Linked DNA regions of Homo sapiens. The protein of the gene in region 1 purifies or fractionates together with the protein of each later gene. This does not show direct contact. Each region holds a gene or a part of one and is shown in the gene's direction. Other genes may lie near its edges. The genes, in order: TRIM35, OTUD5 and LIMD1.

The links.
Region 2: the proteins of TRIM35 (region 1) and OTUD5 purify together in Homo sapiens (affinity purification with mass spectrometry; 2 studies listed by BioGRID and IntAct, with this or other methods). This does not show direct contact.
Region 3: the proteins of TRIM35 (region 1) and LIMD1 purify together in Homo sapiens (affinity purification with mass spectrometry; 2 studies listed by BioGRID and IntAct, with this or other methods). This does not show direct contact.

What each region holds. Positions count from the first base shown.
Region 1 is NC_000008.11:27,301,260-27,304,914, reverse strand, and holds part of TRIM35 (E3 ubiquitin-protein ligase TRIM35), read left to right. Parts: intron 1-71; exon of another isoform or gene 72-154; intron 155-3,655. UniProt on the Homo sapiens protein: E3 ubiquitin-protein ligase that participates in multiple biological processes including cell death, glucose metabolism, and in particular, the innate immune response.
Region 2 is NC_000023.11:48,924,051-48,926,747, reverse strand, and holds part of OTUD5 (OTU domain-containing protein 5), read left to right. Parts: intron 1-697; coding exon 698-901; intron 902-2,695; coding exon 2,696-2,697. UniProt on the Homo sapiens protein: Deubiquitinating enzyme that functions as a negative regulator of the innate immune system. Has peptidase activity towards 'Lys-48'- and 'Lys-63'-linked polyubiquitin chains. Can also cleave 'Lys-11'-linked ubiquitin chains (in vitro).
Region 3 is NC_000003.12:45,678,251-45,681,905, forward strand, and holds part of LIMD1 (LIM domain-containing protein 1), read left to right. Parts: 3' UTR 1-3,655. UniProt on the Homo sapiens protein: Adapter or scaffold protein which participates in the assembly of numerous protein complexes and is involved in several cellular processes such as cell fate determination, cytoskeletal organization, repression of gene transcription, cell-cell adhesion, cell differentiation, proliferation and migration.

The sequences.
Region 1 (3,655 bases):
AATTTGGGAGACTGTAGAGACTTCTCTGCTTTCATTTTTAAGGTGAGGAGCCTGATAGCCGAAGAGAGAAGGAACTTTTTACCAACTCACCAGTGGATAGTGACAAAGACAAGGCTCCAAACCAGCTCTCCTAACCTTCAGTCCAGGAGGCAAGGTATATAGCAGAAAAAACACAGGCATTCCATGTACTCATTGACTGGGCAGGTGGTTAACTGAACATCTACTTTGTGCAGGGACTTGGACATGCAGGGGACAAAACAAAGTCTCTCACCTTGCAGAGCAAGCATTCCTTCTGCAGAAGTGTACCGAGCACCACTATGCAAGGTAGAGAGGACCTGGAGGTTAAGACCTGCCCTCAGGAAAGAGAAGCTATTACCCTGGATAGTGAGTGCTGAGACAGAGGTGGCCAGGGTGCTGTGATGCCCTGGAATGGAACCTGAGCTGGCAAGATCGGGGGGCTTCCTGGAGGAAATGAGGGGTACTAGAGCCGAGTTTTCAAGGTGATGTTGGGTTAGTTGGGGGAAGCAGGTGGGAACCAGGCAGAGCAACAGTGTGTATCAAGTCTCACAAGACAGAAAACCTGGCTCAGGCCAGACAGAGCTGGTTTCACATGCAACTCTAGCACTTTGGTAAGTCCTTGCAAAGAGGCTATGAAGACCTTGTGCAATGAAATTCATTCTTTCCCTTGCCCCTACCTTCCTGCTTCCAGCTATACCACAGAGCACCTGTCCTGTTAATGAAAATTGTGGGTAACGTGATTTTGTAAAGTGCTTAAGATCTTCAATATGCAATTGAAATTTGTTGCTTAAGGAATCAACTTGTCATTTTTGGGAAATCATGTAGTCTATATGATCACATTCTGGATCCTTTAGTATGAATAAAAACCTATTTTGTGTGTGTTTATAACTAATCTTTAACGTAGGCTGGACGCGGTGGCTCATGCCTGTAATCCCAGCATTTTGGGATGCCGAGGCGGGCGGATCACCTGAGATCAGGAGTTCAAGACCAGCCTGGCCAACATGGTGAAACCCTGTCTCTACTAAAAATACAAAAATTAGTTGGGCATGGCGGCAGGCACTTGTAATCCTAGCTACTTGGGAGGCTGAGGCAAGAGAATTGCTTGAATCTGGGAGACAGAGGTTGCAGTGAGCCGAGATTGCGCCACTGCACTCTAGCCTGGACAAGAAGAATGAGACTCTATCTCAAAAAAGTAAAAAATATAAAATAAATAAATAAAAAATCTTAATGTTATAATGTGATGCTAACATCGAAGCTTGTTTGCTCTCCTGAGCTTGGGCTGGGGGATGCTCCAGATCTGTTGTGGGCCCCTGCTACTGCCCATCTCTGCTCATTCATGTGCTCCTTGGGCTACAGGCAGGCCCCTTGAGTGGTAGTTCTATTTGTAATCTAAGCATATTTAGGGTTAAAATTAATACCAAAAGCAAACAAAATAATATTGTTTAGATGCATTCAAATTCACACTTCTTACATGTCATATTTCCTAGGTGAACCACTAGATGCACAGAAGGGGAAAATGGAATAAAAAATGTGTAGTAAATTTTAAAAAAGGAAAGGAAGAAAAAGAAAAATAGAATAAGCAAGACAAATAGCTCAGAACAAGGTGGCAGATTTAAATGCAAACATATCGGTAATTATGTGTTAAATACTCCAGTTAAATGAAAATGTTGATCTGACTGGATAAGAAAACGAAACCTAATTCTGTGTTGCTTAATATAATTATCTCAGTGAGAAAACATTTGATAAAATTTACCATCTTTTTGTGTTTAAAAAAACAGGAAACTAGAAATGGAAGGAATTTCATTAGTTTGATTAAGTATATCTAGCAAAAAAACTTACAGCAAATATCACATTTAATGGCAAAACATTGAAAGCTTTCTTATTGAGATCAAGAAAAAGACAGGAATGCGCATTATGACCAACTCTATTCAGTTTTGTGTGGGATAGCCTTGTCAATGAAGTAAGCCAATAATTATAAATAAAAGATGTAAGGTTTGGAAAGAAGGGAAGCAAAACTGGCATGTGTAGATAATATGGTTGCATATTTTTGCACTGAGATTTCTATGTGTAGAAAATAAAGATTCTACAGTTAAATCATAAGTATTAATAAGTTTAGGTGAATGCTGAATCCAAAATCAAGATGCAAAACCAGTTGTATTTCTATGTATCACTAGCAAATAGAAAATAAAATATAGGCAGGGAGTTTTACACCTGTAATCCCAGCACTTTGGGAGGCTGAGGCAGGAGGATCGTTTGAGCCAAGGAGTTTCAGACCAGCTTGCACAACATAGTCCAGCCTGTCTCTACAAAAAGTTAAAACAAATTAGCCAGGTGTGGTGGTGCATGCTTGTAGTCCCAGCTACTTGGGAGGCTGAGGTGGTGGGAGGATCACTTGAGCACAGGAGGCTGCAGTGAGCTATGATTGTGCTACTACTGCACTGCAGCCTGGGTGACAGAGGGGGACCCTGTTTTGGGTTTTTTTAATTTAAAAATATGTTTACAATAATATAAAAAATAAGATAACTAGGAAGAAATTAATAAAAGATACGCAAAACTCTGATAGGGAAAAATATACTTCGTTGAGAGCTATCAAAGAACATTAAGTAACTGGTGTGATATATTATGTTCGTGGATTAGTAAAGTCAGTATTTAAGCCTTTCAGTTTTCCCCAAATTGATCTATAGAGACAATATTGTACTAATCTAAATCTCAACATGATTATTTTTATGCAACTTCACAGATTCTAAAATTTATATGACCCTCAAAGGGCCAAAAATTGCCAAGACATTCTTGAAGAGAAACCTATCAGAAATCCTCTCTTTTTTACAGCTATAGAAATTATGGCTGTGTGATGTTGGCACAAGGATAAACAGATGGGCCAGAGAAACAGATGGAGAGAACCAAAAAACAGATCTGTGTCTGATTTAAGACAGAGGTGGCTCTGCAGACCAGTGGGCAGTAATGGTCTTTTTAAATAATGGTGCTGAGACAATGAGCTACCTGGTCACACCATGTGCAAAAATAAACTCCAGGTATCCACATCAGACCTAAATGTGAAAGGAAAGCTATAAAGCTTTGAGAAAATACTACAGAGCTATACAATAATAATGCAAAGCTATAAAGCTTTGAGGAAATAATACGATTGTTTTTGTGATCTCAGTGTAGGGAGGTGTTTCTTAAAACTAGTATACTAATCCTAAAGGAAAAGACTAATAAATTTGGCCATATTTCAATTAAGAAAGATAAATGATGAAGTAGAAAATATTCATTACACCTCTAACTAATCAAGGACATACATTGTGTATATATAATAAATTCCCACAAACCAGTTAGGAAAATGGCAGGCAACGCAATGGAAAAATGGACAATACTTTACTGAGTACTTAAAAATAAACATTGAAGTGGTCAATAAACATTTTCTATTAACATTGCTCTTGCTGTAAAAATTGGTACCACTGCTTTGGAAAACAATTTGGCATTACGCAGTAAAGTGAAGACACATATGGTGGCCCAGCAGTTTTATCCCCAGGAATATATTATGAAGAAACGAGTTCCCATGTGTCCCCAGGAGACATGTACAAGAAGGTTACCTCCTCTGGGTCTAACTTGATCCTCTGTATAATGGGACTCACAGTGC
Region 2 (2,697 bases), on another chromosome or scaffold:
ATTTTTGTATGTGTCTCATCTGCTCATGTGTGTGAAAGTCCTCAACATTATGAAACAGTCATCACTGGATGGGGCTTCTTTAAATTAAGGCCCAGGGCCAGGTGCAGTGGCTCACACCTATAATCCCAGCACTTTGGGAGGCCGAGTCGGGTGGATCACCTGAGGTCAGGAGTTCAAGGCCAGCCTGGCCAACATGGTGAAACCCCATTTCTACTAAAAATACAAAAAAGTTAGCCGGGGGTGGTGGCACTCACCTGTAATCCCAGCTACTTGGGAGGCTGAGGCTGGAGAATCCCTTGAACCTGGGAGGCGGAGGTTGCAGTGAGCCGAGATTACCCCACTGCACTCCAGCCTGGGCGACAGAGCGATACTTCGTCTCAGAAAAAAAAAAAAAAATAAGTCCCAGGTTGGAAGGCACCTGACTGCTCCAGTCTCAGTGCCTCAGTTGAGGTGGTTTGGGGGTTAGAGTCAGGTCTTACAAGCATAGGAGTTTGGAATGACAGGTCCCACATCCCAAGCCTGCTTTCCCTTGGTCCCCAATCAAGAGGTAGTCTGTGGAGTGTTGCTCTTTGGGAGTACCTGCTTTCCTGTCTCCTTTTTTTTCTGGGGCCTGTGGGCCTACCTCGCTGAGCCTGTTCTGGCTCTTGGGCAGGTTCAGTGTGTTATTGCACATCCCTGTTCCTCTCCCTCCTTGCAGTTTGCAGAGCAGTCTCTGATGAAGAATGCCATAAAAACATCGGAGGAGTCATGGATTGAACAGCAGATGCTAGAAGACAAGAAACGGGCCACAGACTGGGAGGCCACAAATGAAGCCATCGAGGAGCAGGTGGCTCGGGAATCCTACCTGCAGTGGTTGCGGGATCAGGAGAAACAGGCTCGCCAGGTCCGAGGCCCCAGCCAGGTGGGTCATGGACTCTGTCACAGGCTTGGCCAAAAACTCATTACTTCTCATGCTTTGCCCTCAAGCGAGCAGAAAAAAATTAAGCAGTTTTGACATCTGGGAGGGAAGGAAGCATCCAGCACCATCTGTAACTCATCTTGGTCTTAGTTTTGGCATTGTACCTTGGAACTTTAAATACTTGTGCAGAACAGGCACTTAAGGAGTGAGAGGAGGGCAGCCATGCTGCTGGTGACACGAGAATAATGGATAGCTTCAGAGACACAAGCTTTTGTTGACTGCCCTTGTGTGCCAGGTCTCTACTGAGAATGTAACATCAGATCTGGACTACTCTGCCCTCAACGATCTCGTCTGTTGGCAGAGACAACTCAATGGTGGGGTCCTTGACCCTGACTGGGAGATCAGTGGAGGTGGGGGCTCCGGTTAGTCTTCACAGAGGAAGGTTGAATTGTTAGGGGAGCGGGGAGGGGCGGGGCAGACAAGCATCTGAGGAATTGTAAAATCGCAAGGAGTTTGGAGTGATTGTAGATGTTGGCTGGCAGGAGCTGAGTTTTTTTTTTTTTTTTTTTTTGGAGACAGAGTCTTGCTCTGTCGCCCAGGCTGGAGTGCAGTGGCGCAGTCTCGGCTCACTGCAAGCTCCGCCTCCCAGGTTGATGCCATTCTCCTGCCTCAGCCTGCGGAGTAACTAGGACTACAGGCGCCCACCACCACGCCTGGCTAATTTTTTGTATTTTTAGTAGAGACGGGGTTTCACCGTGTTAGCCAGGATGGTCTCCATCTCCTGACCTCGTGATCCGACCACCTCGGCCTCCCAAAGTGCTGGGATTACAGGCGTGAGCCACCGCACCCGGCTGAAGGAGCTGAGTTTTATTCCACAAATACCTACTACCAGTCTGTGGCAGGCCCTGTTTTCAGTATATGGGGATACATAGGTGAGCCCAGCAGACCAAGATCCCCGTCCTTGTGATGTTCACAGTTTTGCAGAGTGAAATAAAATAATAAATATAATGAATAAATTAGTTGGGAAGTGCTATGGATGGAAAGTGTAGAGCCAGGATAAAGGGGCTGAGCAGGAATGTGCGTTCACGGTATGAAATAGCGCAGTCAGGGTAGGCCTCAGAGCAGGTGAGATTTGAGCCTTGCAGAAGGTGAGAGTTAGCTGAGCGCACATGGAGGGGAGGACAGCAGGCCCACACACCTGGTACAACTCAGGCACAGCCCAGAGGGAGGCCGGTGTATCCGAACAGAATGTAGTAGTAGATGAAGTCAGAGAGGTTGTGGGTCCAATTGGGTAGGGGCTTGTGGGCTGTGGCGAGGACTTTGGCATTTACTCTCAGAGAGGCAGAAACCATGGGAGGATTGTGAGCAGAGGACGGACAGGATGTGGTTGGGGATTTAATAAGATCGCCTTGCCTGCTAGTCATCCAGTGGAGTCTGGTGAGTGAGGGCAGAAGCAGGGGCCAGTGAGGAGGAGGCTACTGCAGTAGGCCAGGTGACTGGTGGCCAGTGCTGGCAGTGGAGTTGGTGAGAAGGGGTTGGATTTGAGATCTATTTTCAAGATAGAGGTAACAGGGTTTCCTGTCAGATTGGCTGTAGGGGTGTGAGAGAAAGGGTAAGGAGCTCCACCTCTGTCCTGTGAGGAGTCTTGTGGTCCACCGTGTGAGTGGGGATGATGTTGACCTACATAGAAGCTGTATCATAGCCAAGGTCCTGGGAAGGGAGCCAGCATTCAGGGATGGGTCACAAGAAGGTCATGGCTGCTGGTGGTCCTTAACGCATTTACCTTCCCCGCTGCAGCC
Region 3 (3,655 bases), on another chromosome or scaffold:
TCACAGATTCAGGAGGAATTTGGCTTTCACACTGGACTCAGATACCTTCTTCAGTGTGTTGGAAATCACTGGCTTCACACAGGCCCAACTCCAGCTGGTCAGGGCAGAGTGATCGTAACTAAAGGTCAGTGGGGAATAGATCCGATTCAGTGCTTTTGCCTTATGCATTTCAGCATCCTGGCTCCCCAGGGTGGCAGGAGCTGAGGGAGGGCCACACACTGGCAAGATTTCAAGACCACTCTCTGCACTGAAGAGGTAAAATTTGCACTGCAAGTCACATCCCTGAGGCCAGAGGTCAGTACCCTTTGGTATTTCGATTAGAAGAAGCTGCAAAAGAAAGGCAGCCCATTTTACCATTGCCAGCCAGGCCGGGGACACAGGAGCCGGTGTGTGCACTCTGCCTCCTCACCTTGCACCCAGAGCAAGAGGACTGGGTGCTGGGCTGCAGAGGCCGGTCAGTGGAGCCCCTAGCACGTGTGAACTCAGGCTTTTCATTGGGCCCGGCTCCACTTCTAGGCCATGTTTTGACTCATTTGGTAACCATTGCCTGTAAGCAGCACAGAATTGGTGCCATGGATTATCTTTTCCATGTTGATGGAATTCATTCTGTTGGAATCCTTTGGCCAGATGTCACTTCAGCCAGGGTGTGCATCATCATTGGTTCTTTTTCACAGGCTGAGCCTCCTGAAAACCCATGAACGCTGGGGCTGGGGAAGTGAACCCTGAGGTGGGGACCCTCTCTTCCCATCAAATCATCCAGCTCAGTGTGGGGCGTGGCAGGGGGGTAAATGAAGCCAGCCAATGTGTTAACCTGTCTCTGTCAACCTAAGAATGTTGGCCTTACTGACACACCTTTGCTCCATGTTCAAGACCAGAAGTAGCTGGGATTTGTTTGCAAATTGGGTAATTAGTTTAAAAATCTGTGATTACATTTTTAAATGAAATTTTCAAAGTGGCCTAGATTGAGGTGATTCAGATAGGTTTGCGAATATACCATTTTATATTGTTGAGAAAGAACAAAAAGGGAATTTCCAGATGTCCTAGAAATCCTAGCAACAGATTTCTCTGGTTGTCAGTTTCCCTGGAGAAGGCGCCAGATAGGAATCTCCAATCAGTTGTTTTTCTCTTCGCTTCAGGCCCTTACACAAAAGCCATGAAGAGATGTTCACCTACCCGGTATTTTAAATGTTCTGTAAATTATTAGCCAAATAGAACTGTAATGGGGTTGTATTTATGGGCGCCTAGAAAGAAAACACAAGGACTTGGTAGGCCAGGAAGAAAAGATTTTAAAATTTAGAATGAATAGCCCTTCTGGGTTTTCTTTTTGACAATTCTTGGACTTGAGGTAAAACAAGGAGGATTGTGGCCGGATTTCAGATCCCAAAGCCAGCCTCCATCTTAGGCCTTTGCCTCATTGTGCCTTTTAGGTTTTCTTACCCACCGTCTCCTGTTTTGTCTTTTTTTTCTTTTCTCCTACCCCTATCTTGGGACATTCAGAAACTGCCTGGGTGGTTTGAGAAGAGACAACCCAGTTTGATCTGCAATACAAGGATCCATTCGTAATCTCTCTCTCACTGATGTTATTCCCCCATCTGCCGTCTTGGTTCATCTCACCACAGAAGGGCATTTAGTCCTACCCAGCCATCGGCTGCGTATGACAGCAGGATGGCACTTCCCATTTCTCTGTGGTTAGTGCTCGAGTGAAAACCTCTTTCAGCTGAGTCCTCTGAGGTTCTGCTGTTGAGTCCTGGGTGGCTGATGGAATGATTGAGGAGGTCTGGTCACCCTCAAGCGCCGTCATCGCCTTGTTTCCATGGGCTTCTGTCACACAAAATGAAGAACAGAAATGTTAGGACTTAAGAGAATGTTTGGAATTCACACCTCTTTGCAGTCCTTTCAAGGCTGCTGCTCTGTGCTGTGTCCCATGCATGTGAAAGTAGAGCTGTGATGGCTGCTGGGACGCTTGCAAAGATCATGTGTGAGAATTGAGCACAAGACCACAAATTATTACTGCTTGATGCGCTTGTTAAAACTCTATCTGCCAGGAAACCAAATTTTCTTTTCTTTTCTTTTTTTTTTTGAGACAGGGCCTCACTCTGTTGCCCAGGCTGGAGTGCAGTGGCGCGATCTCAGCTCACTGCAGCCTCCACCTACTGGGCTCAAGTGATCCTCCCACCTCAGCCTCCCGAGTAGCCGGGACCACAGGCGTGTATGACTGGCTACGCCTGGCTAATTTTTGTATTTTTAATAGAGACGAGTTTCACCATGTTGCCCAGGATGGTCTGGAACTCCTGGGCTCAAGTGATCTGCCCACTTCCGCCTCCCAAAGTGTTGGGATTATGGCCATTAGCCACTGTACCTGGCACAATTTTTTTTTGTACCCTCCTTTATGCCAAGAATCAGTCCTAATTTCTTTACTATGTGAAGTAACTTTTAAAGGTAATAGAAAAGGCCAGGCACAGTGGCTCATGCCTGTAATCCCAGGCGCCGTGGCTCACGCCTGTAATCCCAGCACTTTGAGAGGCTGAGGCGGGTGGATCACTTAAGGTCAGGAGTTAGAGACCAGCCTGACCAACATGGTGAAACACTGTCTCTACTAAAAATACAAAATTAGCTGGGTTTGGTGGCGCACGCCTGTAATCCCAGCTACCTGAGAGGTTGAGGCAGGAGAATCGCTTGAACCTGGGAGGCAGAGGTTGCAGTGAGCCGAGATGGTGCCATTGCACTCCGACCTGGGCAACAGAGCGAAACACTGTCTCAAAAAAAAAAAAAAAAGTAACAGAAAAAAGAGTGAAATATATTAGCTATCTTTTATTCTGAGCCAAAACTTGACAGATGTGGGAAATCTTCATATAGTGTATGAAAATTTCATTGTACAGGGAAATTATTTTCCTCTGTGTCTTTTCTTTTACTATAAAGTGATTCAGAATTTTACTGTTACTATAAAATTATGCAAAGTATTGTGACAAAACTGCATCAATTTGTTGACTATTAAAGTGCTCCTTGAACATTATATTTCCTGGGTCTTTTCTGTGTGTGGAGTCAGCAAACTGTTTTTTGCTACCTGGACTTTGTCTTCTTTTACAGCTCTGGATTCTTAAAAGTACCACATAGGTAGCAAACCTGTGAAGGGTATGAGATTTTACCCTACTTGCAGGCTAATAAAGTGAGCACACCACATGGGTTCATGGATCCTGGCAGAAGTTATGAGACTCATAGGTCAGAGACAAAGGACAGTTTATTATAGCAATAGCAGTGGCCAGATTATCAGCATTTACACTGGTTCCCTGAGCCCCAGGCCCCAAGAAGAGGGCCAGGTGAGACCTGCACACGCAGTGGGCTGCATTACAAGAGGAACCCCCATGCTTAGGGGACCCTGGTATTTGATAATGGGCAGTAAGCCTGCCTGACTTTTGCTCCAGAGACAGACACTATCTCTGTCATCCAAGACTGTTCACTAGATAAACATCCTTGAAAATATAAGTCTGGAACCTGGCAATTGGTGTCTATTCTTACCAGATGTATAAAAATGTGAGAGGCCTTGGAGAATCATATCCCAAGAATCAGCAGTTTCTTTTACTGGACCTTTAAGATTGAGACTTGTAAGGTCCTGATGCAGTGACTTGTAAGGTCACTTTGTCTCTCTTGTGAATGT